Homo sapiens: one gene and its partners. The gene in region 1 interacts genetically with each later gene. Each region holds a gene or a part of one and is shown in the gene's direction. Other genes may lie near its edges.

Region 1 (3,500 bases):
TGTCTTAAAGACTTTTCTACATGATCCTCTTGTGGAATGGAGTAAACCAGTGAAAGGGCATTCCAAAGCGCCACTGAATGAAACTGGAGAAGTTGTCAATGAAAAGGTTAGTAGAAGGTATAGCTTGATATGGGCTGTAGTCCTCATCTCTACAAATGAACTTGATATGCAGCTATAGTTCTCATCTCTATGCATGAGAACTGCTTGGAAATACTGTTAGTGACTATTGATTACTCTGAAATCTAGTTCTCTAGTATCACAATGCCATAAGTTTTCTTTATTGTCAGTAATGTTAACAGTATTCGCATTTGTATAATAAAAGTTCATGGCACACTTGTTTAACCATAGACAATTCACAGTTATGAGATACAGTAGGAAAAACTATAGTACAAATTGCCTGAACTTACAGAACAACAGGTCTGAGCTTTAATATCATGATACCAGTATGTCACAAGCTATGTTAACAAATGCAGCAATTCACTTCTTACTTAGTTGAAGCTGCAAAGTTTGCAGATAGTTTTGTTGTTGTTGTTGTGGTGGTGGTGGTGGTTGTTGTTTTTGAGACAGAGTCTCGCTCTGTCATCCAGGCTGGAGTACAGTGGCACGATCTTGGCTCACGGCAACCTCTGCCTCCTGGGTTCAAGCAGTTCTCCTGCCTTAGCCTCCCAAGTAGCTGGGATTATAAGCGTGCACCACCACAGCTGGCTAATTATTATATTTTTAGTAGAGATGGGTTTCACCATGTTGGCCAGGCTGGTCTTGAACCCCTGGCTTCAAGTGATCCACCCACCTCAGCATCCCAAAATGCAGGGATTATAGGCATAAGCCACTGTGCCTAGCTCAGATAGTTGTTTTTAATAAGTTAGAATAGATTGAGGATTCGTTTTTTTTGGTGGGGGGCACTCTTACATCTTTAATAAGTCTTGTACAGGCTTACTAAATACAATGAATTATACCAACTATATGCTAATAAAGATTAAAAATTTACATTCCAGTTAACTACCTAAAGAGTTTAAGTCCACTTTCATCCTACTGATATAGCTCGAGGAAGGCTAGACCTGTACGCCCCCATCCTTCATGTCATCCTTAACCCTTTGTCTTGAGAAAGAAGGTTTAGCTGCTTCTTTAGTTCTTCTAAAAGAACTAAAAGAAAAATTTCTTTTTCTTGCTCTATTATCTTCATCTGTAGGGTGAGATTAATATTTCCAGAATTGTGGAAAAATTCACTCTGTAGCAGTTGAAGAGCAGATGGTCTCTGGGACATGTTCCTTTTCGTTAAGTGATAGATATACTTGGCTTGTACTGGATACCTTTTACTGAGGGATTCCAATATCTGACCAGTTCTTGAACCTGTTAAAACTTCTGCTCGCTCCATTTCTGTTCTAAACAGCTGAAAGAGCTCTAGCAGGATCACACTCAAGCTATATACATATCTAACTGGACAAAGCCAGCCCTGGTCTCTACAAATAGTTTTTGTTTTTTTTTAATTAGCTGGGCTCAGTGGCACACTCCTGTAGTCCCAGCTACTTGGGAGGCTGAGGTGGGAGGATCACTTGACCCCAGGAGTTGGAGGCTGCTGTGAGCTATGATGACACCACTGCACTCCAGCCTGGGCAACAGAGTGAGACCCTTGGCATCATACTCAGATCCTTCCAACTGCTGGGATGAAGCATACAGACAAGTGCCCACTCTGGATATAGGTGTTGGTGTTCTCTTTCTGTTTCTATGGGTCCAGTCTGTGTTCTTTTGTAAGATGTCTGGGCAAGCCAGACCAAAGTCTCCTATTTTTACTTGCTGATCAGGGCCATGAAGAAAAATATTTCTAGGCTTCAGATCTCTGTTTACAATACCCATGTTATGTATGTAAAACACACCTTCCACTAAATCTTGAAAATTTTTTGTTGCAACACTGGCCATAAGGACAGGCAAACTTGCCCACACACTCTTGGCCCTGTTTGTTTCTCTCAGCTAGCCAGTCCCACAGCTGGAGCTTGCACACCTGCATCTGGATGTGCAGCATCAGGTGGTACTGCACCTCGATCCCCAACAAGTTGAAGTTTTCTTTGGAAGATTCCTCAGTGGATGTGAAATTCTCCTCTAGGAGGGAATTACACCTGAGCAGCAGGGGCTGTTTCACAATTGACCAGGTAGACAAACCAGCCAGGCCATTTTCCTGGAGCTCCAGGGATGATTCATATTCACTGGTGTCTCTTAAGACGGAATTGATGGTGTAGTTCACAGCTTGTTGTTCTGATTTTGAGTGTCAGATTCTGCAAAGGGTTTTTCTTTTCTGAGGTGAGCTCCGCGAAGATAATGGGTGAGCTGCTATTTTCACCATTTTTAACACCGTATTGGTATCTGTCTGCTTGGTCGGAGAACACTTCCAGAAATGGCAACTGAACGGAAGCTCTGTCTGCTTGTGGTTGGACCACTTGAACATGTTCTGTCCACGCAGTGTGATAACGAATGATATTAGGGTGCTGAAGACCTGCCAGCACCTTCATTCCCCGTAGTTCTTTCATGTAATGTGTTTTTGTTGCACCCTTAATCAGGATTTTTTAAATTGCATAATACTGACCATCTAATTTATTCCTGACCTTGTATACTCTTCCATATCCACCTTTTCCTAAGATGGCAAGTTCTTCAAATTCATTTAAGTAACGTGAAGTTTGTGCTTCAAAGGGTACTTCCCTTGATCTGATTTTCTGGATATGAGAAATAGCCTCACAAGGATCCTGATGAACTCTCTCTTTAGTGGACCTCATTAAGTGAGTAATAGCTCTGTGGTGATGTAGTCTCAATGAGCTAAACTTGTCACAAGTGAAAGAAGACAGCAGCCCCATTTTGATAAAGGTCTGGCAAAGTAACTTAAACACTGTCTTGAATGAACTGGGTTTGGTTCACGCACATGGCTCAAGTGCTTCACCAAAGAAATAAGCGGCAGCTGGTTTGCAACTGCAAAAGGGAAAGTTGGCTGTTGTAGGGGTTATTTTAATACCTGGAGTTCTGCTGGAACATAAGTCATATTTGGAGTCCAGGCTCTTGGCGGAAAAGTCGATGGCAGATGGCACAGCAACAGTCTCCACCCCGTGGCCCTCCTCTTTGTGCTCGTGGGCTGCAGCGCAGCCCACCAGCCCACCCAGCACCACCTCTGAGAATTATTCTTCTAATAACGTTATTCTTCCTTTTGCATTCAGATATGCTTAAGAAATTGTACAGTTCCAAGTAGCTCACTTAGAACACCCATTTGCATGTACTAACATAATGTAAATATTAGGCAGTACAGCATTGTTATTTGAATATTCATTGAAATGTTTAAGTCCTAAACACTTCCAAAGCAGATTTAAAAAATTATTTTTCTAGAATTGTAATGTGTAAATAATTCCCTGGTATTTCACGTAGTCCAGAAACATGTCCAAGCAGTTGATGTTGAATCAATCTTGCGAGCCTCCAAATCAGTATCACAAGCTAACTGTATTTGTTTAATTTCTTCTTTTCCT
Region 2 (4,107 bases), on another chromosome or scaffold:
CCTCGGCCTCCCAAAGTGCTGGAATTACAGGCGTGATCCACCGCACCCGGCCTATTTTTTGAGAGAGGGTCACACTCTGTCGTCCCGGCTGGAATGCAGTGATGCGATCACCGCCCACTACAGCCTCGACCTCCGGGCTCAAGCAATCCTCCCCGCCCAGCCTCCTGAGTAGCGAGCGCCTCGACGCCCAGCTAATTTTTATTTTTATTTATTTTTTTGTAGAGACGGCGTCTCTCTAAGATGCCCAGGCTGGTGGCCGGTGTCGAACTCCTAAGATGAAGCGATCCTCCCCGGCCTTGGCCTCCGCGCCTCCTAAAGCGCCAGGTATGAGCCACCGCGCCTGGCCTACAAGTGCATTTTAATTAAAGTATTATTAATGTCTTTGCCTGAAGAAATTCGCTTTTAAATTGTGACTTATCTTTCACCCAAAAATCAAAGCACAATTCAGCCCCGAGGCGGGGGCGGTAGGAGCTGGGCGGGGCGGGGGCAGGGAAAGACCAGGAGCAGAGATTCAAAAAGAGTAAGAGGGCAAAATGTGCATAATGCATCTTCACAGGTAAGAGCCTGGCCAGGCTCCTGTTTTAATGGCTTCCTCCTGAAGAAGATTCAAGCAGAGTGTAAGATATTTTCGGAAAGTAGAGCATTTTGAAAGCATTTCATAATCTCTCAAAACCGGAGACTGCTCCTGTCCCACCTCGTTAGAGAAAACAGCGATGCTCAAAGGCAACCTCCTTCCTGACATTGCCTGGTAGGACGCGACGTGGTGTTTGCCCGCGCGGAATGCGGACGCAAGGCTGCTCCTAGGTCTCGGGGACGCGCCATCCCCATTTCCGCTCGCGGAGGCGTAGGGTCCGGGCGCGGGACCCCAGTCGACCTTGACTGGCGGCGCGACCTTGAGGCCTGCGTTCGCCTCAGTTGCCCCCTCTGTGCAATGGGGAGACGCGCCTCATCGCTTGACAACGGCCGAAGAGCCGCCGCGCTTCCGTCTCCCGCGTGCGCGCGCCATGCTGCCCACCCCCGTTCCGCACTGACCCTCCCCCGTGCCCCGCGTCCCGTACTGCCGCCCCGCCCCGAGTCCCATGCCGCAGCCACCGCGACGGAGCCCGCAGGCGGGAACCTGCCTCCGCGCGTTAGCGCGCACGCGCGCCTCATGTGTCGTCCCCATCAGCGCCGGCTTCCGTCTATAGGCCAGATGCACTGTCACTCTGGCGAAGTCGCAGACCCGATTGGCCGGGACGGAGGCGCGAGACCGGGTTGCGGGCGGGGCCGAACGTGGTATAAAAGGGGCGGGAGGCCAGGCTCGTGCCGTTTTGCAGACGCCACCGCCGAGGAAAACCGTGTACTATTAGCCATGGTCAACCCCACCGTGTTCTTCGACATTGCCGTCGACGGCGAGCCCTTGGGCCGCGTCTCCTTTGAGGTCGGGCGGGCGGCGGCGTGCGGGAATGGGGCCCAGAAAGTGGGCCGGGGTCGGGGTGGGTGGTAGCGCCCCAAAGGCCCGGGCGCGGGGCGACCCTGCTTGAGGGGCGAGCGCGGGCGGGCTGCGGCGCCATTTCCTGACGAGGGGCCATTTTGGGAGGTCCGCGAGTCGCGGGGAGGAGGCCGGGACGGCGGCGGACAAAGGCAGGCGGGGCGGCTGCGAGGCCGTTGGGGGAGGGGGCCCGCGTCCGCCCGCCCGCCTCATGTGGCCGCGCCCTGTCCTGTCCGACGCACGTGCTCGGCGGCCGCGCTCAGGTCCGCGCCTTGAGAGTCGTTGGGCTCCGCCCTAGCTTGGCCTGGGCGCCGCAGACCGGAGCCAGAAGCACGCTCGCGGGGGCTTGCGACCGCCTTCCTGGGAAGCTGTCCCCTGGCAGGCATGGGTGCTTTACATCCTGAGCTGGGAAGCTGTTTGCTTGAGGGTTTTTCTCAAGGATCGAGGCGCGGTGTGAGCCCGTCCATGCTCGGTCCTGTAGATCCCGGGAGGCCATGTTATAAAAGGAGACTTGCTGGGATGTGACGGGTTGCCACTTGAAATATCTTCCATTTGGATAAAGTAGGAATATTTATACATGTGCCCCAAACGTCCCTCCGTGTCCCCCACCCCCAAGCGGAAATGTGAAAATGGGCCTTGCCTTTGCTGGTGCCCAAGGACCGCCTTCCACTGCAGTGACGGCGCTGGCGGGGGAGGCGCTCTTGAGCCCCTCCCGATTGTCCCTCTGCCTAGCAAGCAAGTTGCGACTGGCCACAAGGCAGGCCTCTTCCGACCAAGGTGGATTACCAGTGATTACCTAATTAGTTTTGAGAGCGTTAAATGAGTTCTTAAAGATCAGTTGTAATTATAGCATAGTATCTAAACTTGGCGCGTGTCTTCAAAGTTAAATATTGAGTACGATTCCGTTCCAGTTAACATGGATAGACCTTAGGGAGTAGCGAAATAGGATGTTAGTGGTTTTATTCCTTTAAATCACATCTCAAAAGGCCACCAATGGCTAGTTTGGGATCTTATTCCGAAAATAGATTGATCCTCATGCAGTCTTCGTGAGGACAGAGCGATTTCCTTGTTGCCTACCCTGTCCATAGTGCCTGGCACATAGGCACTGAAACACTGCATGTTAATCCACACCCCACCCCACCTATGAGTGTAGTCAAAGCTGGTAAGTGACAAGGGCTTTCGTGGAAACTTGGCCTGACCTAATGTTGGGCATCAGGTTACCCAAAGAGCTTCAGGGAAATGAGAAAGGACTTGCAGGTCTTGATGAGAATGGAGGGGTAACTGCCAATGAGGGCTTTGGCTTTAGCGAAAGTCTGAAAGGGAAGCCATAGGAACTTAAACGTACCGACTATAAAGCTCTGAGAAAAGCTGATGTTTTAGAAAGACCATACATTCTAGGTACAAATACCTAAAAACTAAAAAATAAGTACGTTGGCCAGGCGGGCGGATCACGAAGTCAGGAGATTGAGACCGTCCTGGCCAACATGGTGAAACCCCACCTCTATTAAAAATACAAAAATTAGCTGGGCGTGGTGGCGCTTGCCTGTAATCTCAGCTACTCTAGAGGCTGAGGCAGGAGAATCGCTTGAACCCCGGAGGCGGAGGCTGCAGTGAGCCGAGATCGTGCCACTGCACTCCAGCCTGGTGACAGTGAGACTCTTGTCTCAAAAAAAAAAAAGTACATTGCTATAAGAGAAGTGCACACGGATACTAGTAGTTAATTCAGTCACATCTGTGAAATAGCTTATAAAATGCTACTTTTAAACAAGCTGTTTTTATGAAAGGGCTTGTAAATGTTTATGGTATTTAAGCTACCTCTCTAGCCATAACGTATTATACATTCAAGAAAGGTTCAAAACCAGATATACTAGAAACCAATCTTTATTTTTTACCCCACTACTAGGTAAGGGGCCTGGATACCAAGAAGTGACTGCTCATCTAATCCATAAAGCTATGTTAACAGATTGGAGGTAGTAGCATTTTCATTACAAGTGACTAAAAGAACAGCTGTTTACCCCTGATCGTGCAGCAGTGCTTGCTGTTCCTTAGAATTTTGCCTTGTAAGTTCTAGCTCAAGTTGGGGGGTGGTGATAGACATTTAAGAAGCCATATATCTTTTCAGAAGTAGGTGTGATGTACTAAAAGTTTGAGACACTTTCTAGAAGTCTCACTATTTAAGTTATGACTAGTATTGGATTTTTGGCATGTCTTTGGGTTTCATGTTTCTTAACCCAACTGCCTGCAGGGCCTTATGGCTGTCAGGAGCAGTTCTTGGGAATTAAAGTAATTACTGAAGAAGTATTCTAGTGAGAAAATGAATTTATGACTCAGAAGCCCCTAAAGACATGGGTACTAAGCAACAAAATAAGCAGATGTTAATTAACTGTAATTTTCTCTTACAGCTGTTTGCAGACAAGGTCCCAAAGACAGCAGGTTGGTCCATTTTCTAAGTTTAACAAAGATGTTCCAATTGTGACAGTTTGTGTGTGTGTGTGTATATATATATTTTTATGTATGTATATATGTGTTTAATTTTTTTTTAAACAGAAAATTTTCGTGCTCTGAGCACTGGAGAGAAAGGATTTGGTTATAAGGGTTCCTGCTTTCACAGAATTATTCCAGGGTTTATGTGTCAG
Region 3 (3,500 bases), on another chromosome or scaffold:
ATGTGTCTTTTCTTCCCTATGACACTGACAGAATGAAAGTAATAAGAGTAGCTTTGACAAAATGATTGAAGCCATTAAAGAAAGCAAGAATGGCAAGAAGATTGGAGTGTTCAGCAAAGACAAATTCCCTGGAGAGTTCATGAAGAGCTGGAATGACTGCCTCAACAAAGAAGGCTTTGACAAAGTAAGAATACTACTGGAAATAGCAAATCAAGAGTTGAGAAGACAGAAATGTGATGGGCTTCCATAACAGATAGTGCAGGACGTTTGTTTTGGGAAAACTGTATGTTTGTTTACATTTTATCCCCTTTGGCTGAGCAGTGTGCCAGTTTTATTTTTTTTCCCTGCCTTTCTTCTATCTGCCTTTACAAAAAACGTCTAGAGGGCAGTTTACATTTTAAGTGGTACATTAGCTTAACACCTCTTGTAGTACACACAATGACCTGGCAAAGAGCTATTTCAAATGTTTATTCAGTTCAAGAAGAGAATGTTTGAATATTCTGCAAACCAGTGATAGTTTGCTAAATAACAGAAATATCACTGGTAATATTCAAATTGGAGAGATGCATTTATTTTGTAATTCTGTACTTGCATGTTAGAAACTCTTGTCACTTTGACTGCAGATAGATATCAGTGCAGTTGTGGCATATACCATCGCTGTAAAGGAGGATGGGGAGCTCAACCTAATGAAGAAAGCAGCCAGCATCACTTCTGAAGTCTTCAACAAATTCTTCAAGGAAAGAGTCATGGAAATAGTTGATGCAGATGAGGTAAATGGAGATGAGAGGGTCTTTTTACTGTTTTAATGAAGCAGTAATAAGTCTACCATGCAAATCTGTTGGTGTGTTCTTCAGCTTCCTTTGAAATTAAGACTGACACTTAAGTTGGTGGTAATTACATCATCTCCCTTTCAAAATAATGGTAAGCCTGCGTTATGTTTTCTTGAGGTAACCCATTATTTTACTTGAGAATCATAGGAATAGCTGTAAGTCCTACATATTGTTCTCCAAATGTGTTTTGCCTGCATACCAATATATTACCTGGCGCATAAATCATTTCCTAAGACTTATACAAGGATACATTTTGTCTTCAAATCATAGTGTCCACACACCCCGCTTTGCTACCCTCTAGTAAGTGTTACTTTATTTCTGGATGCTCTTACAGAAAGTTCGACACAGCAAACTGGCTGAGTCTGTGGAAAAGGCCATTGAAGAGAAAAAATACCTTGCTGGGGCAGACCCTTCTACTGTGGAAATGTGTTACCCTCCTATCATTCAGAGTGGTGGCAACTATAATCTCAAGTTCAGTGTGGTGAGGTAAGTATATGAAGACTTCATAATATAGCATTTTGACTTTAGCCTATTTTTTCTTTTTGTTAAATCTGTACAAATTTGTGGGGTACACTGAAATTTGGCTACAAGTATATAATGTATAGTGTTACCAAGTCATTATCTTGGGTGTCCATCACCCAGGTGCAATACATTTTTGTTAAGTATAGTCACCCTACTCTGCTGTCAAACATTGAATTTATTCCTTCTATCTTACTTTATGTTTGTACCTTTTAACCCACTTCTTTTCATCCTCGCCTGCCCCCCTACACACTTACCCTTACCAGTCTCTGTTATCTATTTTTTCCCTATCTCCATGTAATCCAATTTTTTAGTTCCCACATATAAGTGAGAACATTCAGTATTTGTCCTTTTATGTCTGGCTCATTTAACTTAAGACTAATTACAACTCACAATTCATAGAGGACTAATGGATAAGTGACTCCTCACAACCCCACAATTAGACTATAATGGATACAATTCAGGATATCATTTGCATTTTTGTAATCCAGTACTCACTTACTCACTGAATTTTTATCCTAAAAGTTTTGGTCACTGACTTTTACTCCAGAGCCTTTATAAACTGGTTAGTTTATTTAAAACAAAACACAAAAAAGTTTAGGTCCTTATTCAGCCACAGCTTTGGGATATGGCAGGGAAAAGTAATGATTATTGATACCGTGTCCCATTGATACCAAGGACTTTGCTAGTTTTGGTAATGAAATGTTTTCTTTCTTTGTTGGTCTCTAGTGACAAGAATCATATGCACTTTGGGGCTATCACTTGTGCCATGGGTATTCGCTTCAAGTCTTACTGCTCCAACCTTGTTCGCACTTTGATGGTTGATCCTTCTCAAGAAGTTCAAGAAAATTATAACTTTTTGCTCCAGCTTCAAGAGGAGCTGCTGAAGGAATTAAGACATGGTGAGGTGCCTTAGAAAAGGAGGTTTGAAAGTTGTGTAACAAAAATGTCATTGGCCGGGAGCTGTGGGTCACACCTGTAATCCCTACACTGGGAGGCCGAGGCAGGAGGATCACTTGAATCCAGGAGTTCAAGACCAGCCTGGGCAATGAGGCCCCCATATCTCTACAAGAAATTAAAAATGAAACAATTAGTTGGGCATAGTGGTGCACGCCTGTGGTCCCAGCTACTCAGACTGAAGTTGAGGAGGATCACTTGAGCCTGAATGGTCAAGGCTGCAGTGAGTTGCGATTATACCTCGGCAGTGAGCTATGATTGCGCCACTGCACTCCAGCCTGGGCAATAGAGTTGAGACCTTCTCTCAAAAAAGAAATGTCATTAGTGTTATGTTTATGTCTCTGAGGCTCTCATATTAAAAACAGAATAAGATTTACAAATGTTGAATCATCCTAGCATCTAGGTCTTGAATCTGCATTTCTTTCAAGCATGAGTGATCATTGTGGTTTACATTGATGTTTATAGAAACCTCTCTGACTTGTTAGGCCCTCTGTGTCCAGATCATCACAAAATACCTTGGCCTTATTACTATTCCTTAGTTATAGAAAGTTCTGAGAACTAGTATCTCTACCTACAGGATATATACTGTTAATCCTACATCAAAACGATACGAAGGATACTGAGCTTCCAGACACCATTCTTCCACATTATCTCTAAGTCGGTCTTAAGAAGTCCTATTGGAAATCATAGCCATAGATAGTTTAATGAAGATAAAGATCCCTCTGAGGCCACCATATCTAGACTACTTTTTAGCTTGACATACCCATTCATAGTCTAGATCCTGAAAAATTAAGGCCACAGCCCTCATAACAATAATTCACCCATTTAGTGATAAATGGAACAGGCCCACCACAAGGATCTGTTTTTGAAAATGTATAATAACTTTAATGTGATACCATTTATCAACTCTTAAAGTATTTTATTAAGACCACTGTCCTCCTAGATCAGTGATTCTCAAATAGTATGATTAAGAATGGGATCGGGGCCGGGTATGGTGGCTCAAGCCTGTGATCCCGGCACTCTGGGAGGCCAAGGTAGGCGGATCATGAGGTCAGGACCATCCTGGCTAACACGGCGAAACCCCATCTACTAAAAATACAAAAAAATTAGCCGGGCGTGGTGGCAGGCACCTGTAGTCTCAGCTACTCGGGAAGCTGACGCAGGAGAAAGGCGTGAATCCGGGAGGTGGAGCTT
Region 4 (3,500 bases), on another chromosome or scaffold:
CTCCTCTTCTGGGAGGCAAGCTCTGTCCTCATTGCTAGGCAAGACCTACCATGGTTTGGGAACTACAGAGCTGGGTAGGAACATGGGTCTCAGGCCACAGCCACTACCTTCTTACCAACTCTGAGGCCCATGATAGTTGGGGGAGTCAACTGCCAGCCCACCAATCTGGTGACTGGATGTCACATGCGATGCCCTCATGGATTCTCACCTTGTCCATCTACCCTTCGTCCCCCAGGCTCCCTGATGGACTTACTCGCCGAGGAGACATCAACCTGCTGATGCTAGGGGACCCTGGGACAGCCAAGTCCCAGCTTCTGAAGTTTGTGGAGAAGTGTTCTCCCATTGGGGTGAGTGGCCTGGGATACCTTTGCCACCTTGGCTTGCAGGGAGGAAGGCTGCAGGGCAGGGCCTCTGGGTCCTCAGGACACCTGTGGTGGGCTGGCTCACCCGGAATCTCTTCCTCCTTTCTCTTGGCTGCGGTCAGGATGGCCGAGGAGATGGGAGGAAGAAGGGAGCCAACAGGTGTATGTAGGTTTGGGGCAGGGGGCGAGTACACTGTACTGAGAGTCAGGATGGGGTTTGGGTCTCACCCTGGCCAGAAATTGGCTGTGGGCTTTGAGTAAGTCACCCAATCTCCCTGAGCGTCAGTTTATCCATTTGCTAAATAATGATATTGTTATCATTAATAGCTAAAATCTGGCTGGGCATGGTGGTTCATCCCTGTAATACCAGCGCTTTGGGAGGCCGAGGTGGGCGGATTGCTTGAGCTCAGGAGTTTGAGACCAGCCTGGACAACATGGTGAAACCCTGTCTTTACCAAAAATACAAAATAACTAGCCAGGCGTGATATGCACCTGTGGTCCCAGCTGCTTGGGAGGCTGAGGTGGGAGGATCACTTAAGCCCAGAACGGGGAGGTTGCAGTGAGCCAAGATTGTGCCACTGCACTCCAGCCTGGGTGACAGAGTGAGACCATGTTTCAAATAATAATAATAAATAATAATAATAATAATAATAGCTAAAATGAAGGGCCAGACACTGCTTGAAGTACTTTGCATATATTTACTTAGTCTTCACCTCAACTGTGTGGCAGGTACTATTACCCCTGTGTTAGGGGTGAGAAAACTCAGGTACAGAATGGGTAAGTGTCTTGGCCCAGGTCTCACTGCTGGTAAGCATTAGAGCAGGATGTGATTGAACCCAAGTGTCTGATGAGCTGGGTCCTCTGCTGCGTTGTTGAATGGGTCTGCGGGGATCAGAGCCAGAGAAGGTCTGACATGATCCGAGTGGCGGGGTTGTATAGGGCGAGATGGTGGTCTTTGGATAGATAGGAAGTGTGCCAAATTTGCCACACTGGCACTGTCCAGTAGAAATAGTGAACTGCACATGCGACCCATGTATGTCTTCTCAGATTGTCTAACAGCCACATTAAAAAGTAGCTGGGTGCGGTTGTGTGCATACCTGTAGTCCCAGCTACTTGGGAGGCTGAGGTGGGAGGATCACTTGAGCCCAGGAGTTTGAGACCAGCTTGGGCAACATAGCAAGACCCCGTTTCAATTTAAAAGGAAGAAGGGGAAAGAAAAAAGGAAAAACAGGTGAAGTTACTTCTGTTTAACTCGCTATATCTAAAATCTCATTTCAACATGTTGTTTGATATGTAGATTATTGAGATACTTTACATTCTTAGGAGCTCTGAGTCTTTGAAATCGTGCGTATTTTGCACGATTAAGGACATCTCAGTTAGGACTTTCCCAATTTCAGGGGCTCTATGGCAGTATGTGGCGTGTAGGTCTATATAGAGACGACAAGGGACTCACGATGGGGGCAGGCTTTCCCTGGGAGTCAGGAGTCCTCATCCTAGCCCTGAGGCTAACTCCTCTTCTCTGGGCCTCAGTTTGCTCATCTGTGAGTTGGGCCTCACAAGACTGTGTCACAGGGCTGTGGTGAGGCTTAGGTGAGCCATGGATGTGATGCCCTCAGCGGGGAGAACATCTGGGCACACCGAGGCCCAGGGCAGCATCCCCTTCCAGAGGGAGACGCACTGAGTTGGAGCCTTGAGTCCTATTCTGTACCCTGCAGCCAGCTTTGATGTGTGACCTTGGGCAAATCACAACCTCAGTGGGTCTTTTTGTCTTATGGGGGTCAAAGCATGGAGTTGTTATTGGGCCCTGACACCACCCCACTGCCCCAGGTATACACGTCTGGGAAAGGCAGCAGCGCAGCTGGACTGACAGCCTCGGTGATGAGGGACCCTTCGTCCCGGAATTTCATCATGGAGGGCGGAGCCATGGTCCTGGCCGATGGTGGGGTCGTCTGTATTGACGAGTTTGACAAGGTGAGTCTGATGAGGTGGGTAGTAGCCAAAAGGTGGGTGGCACCAGGGTATGTGACTTCCTGTGCTCAGCCAGCAGAAATCACCTCTGACTTGGGAGACATGTTTTCAATCCCTGGGCCGGTCACTCTAGTAACTGTGGGAAGCTGCTTAACCTCTTCAAGCCTCAGTTCCCATATCTGAAGAGTGGGGAGAAGAAAGGCAAGCCCACACAGTTGTTCCCATGATTAGAGGTGACCTGGTTGCTGCCATTGGCCTTGCGTGGAGCTGGTATTCAGGAGTGAGGGCTGCTGTTAGTTTTCCTGTTTCTACTGCTCCCTGCTCCCTCACTTCAGTAGGTCTGATGATATTTCTCTCTTCCCCACTTAGATGCGAGAAGATGACCGTGTGGCAATCCACGAAGCCATGGAGCAGCAGACCATCTCTATCGCCAAGGTGAGTGGCCCTCCATGGAGAGCCCAGCCTGCAGCAGCCCAGCGTGGCCCAACCGTCCTCAGGCTGCCCTGATTGGGACCAAGTTCTCTTTGCCCAGGCCTAGAATCTGTGTGTGTGTGTGTGTGTGTGTGTGTGTGTGTGTGTGTGTGTGTGTGTGTGTGTGTGTGTAAACGTGTATATAAGAAGGCATCTTTGCCATCTCCTCCCCCTTTTCGTCGTCTGTCGCCTGTTAGGCTGGGATCACCACCACCCTGAACTCCCGCTGCTCCGTCCTGGCTGCTGCCAACTCAGTGTTCGGCCGCTGGGATGAGACGAAGGGGGAGGACAACATTGACTTCATGCCCACCATCTTGTCGCGCTTCGACATGATCTTCATCGTCAAGGATGAGCACAATGAGGAGAGGGATGTGGTACGTCCAGGGGCAGGGCTGGTGGCCATGGGACCTGCCTCCAGGCAGGCTTGTGATTGTGTGGGAAGGAGAATGGAGAACAAGGGCCTTGGCTGGCAAAGTCCTGACTGTCAGGCTGTGAAATTGGGGAGCACGTGAGAGGGCGGTTGTTGTGGACTGCAGAGGATTGAAGCAGGGTCTGGAGTCCTGTGGCCTGCTCTGCCTCTGCCGTGAGTGATAAGCTGTGTGATTTGGGCTAAATCAGTTTCTCCCTGGGCCTCAGTCCCTTATATATGAAACAGAGGAGTTGACATTGGGTTATGAGTAATAGAACCTCAGTTCTGGT

Evidence for each region. A genetic interaction does not mean that the proteins touch.
Region 2: changes in ATR (region 1) and PPIA are lethal when combined (synthetic lethality), as found in Homo sapiens cells (one large-scale study listed by BioGRID).
Region 3: changes in ATR (region 1) and SUPT16H are lethal when combined (synthetic lethality), as found in Homo sapiens cells (one large-scale study listed by BioGRID).
Region 4: changes in ATR (region 1) and MCM5 are lethal when combined (synthetic lethality), as found in Homo sapiens cells (one large-scale study listed by BioGRID).

The regions. Positions count from the first base shown.
Region 1 is NC_000003.12:142,449,734-142,453,233, reverse strand, and holds part of ATR (serine/threonine-protein kinase ATR), read left to right. Parts: coding exon 1-106; coding exon of another isoform or gene 107-178; exon of another isoform or gene 179-2,631; coding exon of another isoform or gene 2,632-2,661; exon of another isoform or gene 2,662-2,675; intron 2,676-3,500. UniProt on the Homo sapiens protein: Serine/threonine protein kinase which activates checkpoint signaling upon genotoxic stresses such as ionizing radiation (IR), ultraviolet light (UV), or DNA replication stalling, thereby acting as a DNA damage sensor.
Region 2 is NC_000007.14:44,795,374-44,799,480, forward strand, and holds the start of PPIA (peptidyl-prolyl cis-trans isomerase A), read left to right. Parts: upstream 1-1,307; 5' UTR 1,308-1,351; coding exon 1,352-1,420; intron 1,421-1,745; exon of another isoform or gene 1,746-2,248; intron 2,249-3,374; exon of another isoform or gene 3,375-3,531; intron 3,532-3,873; coding exon 3,874-3,904; intron 3,905-4,018; coding exon 4,019-4,107. UniProt on the Homo sapiens protein: Catalyzes the cis-trans isomerization of proline imidic peptide bonds in oligopeptides.
Region 3 is NC_000014.9:21,367,020-21,370,519, reverse strand, and holds part of SUPT16H (FACT complex subunit SPT16), read left to right. Parts: intron 1-31; coding exon 32-184; intron 185-623; coding exon 624-770; intron 771-1,164; coding exon 1,165-1,316; intron 1,317-2,078; coding exon 2,079-2,251; intron 2,252-3,500. UniProt on the Homo sapiens protein: Component of the FACT complex, a general chromatin factor that acts to reorganize nucleosomes. The FACT complex is involved in multiple processes that require DNA as a template such as mRNA elongation, DNA replication and DNA repair.
Region 4 is NC_000022.11:35,413,640-35,417,139, forward strand, and holds part of MCM5 (DNA replication licensing factor MCM5), read left to right. Parts: intron 1-235; coding exon 236-347; intron 348-2,189; coding exon 2,190-2,333; intron 2,334-2,699; coding exon 2,700-2,765; intron 2,766-2,998; coding exon 2,999-3,175; intron 3,176-3,500. UniProt on the Homo sapiens protein: Acts as a component of the MCM2-7 complex (MCM complex) which is the replicative helicase essential for 'once per cell cycle' DNA replication initiation and elongation in eukaryotic cells.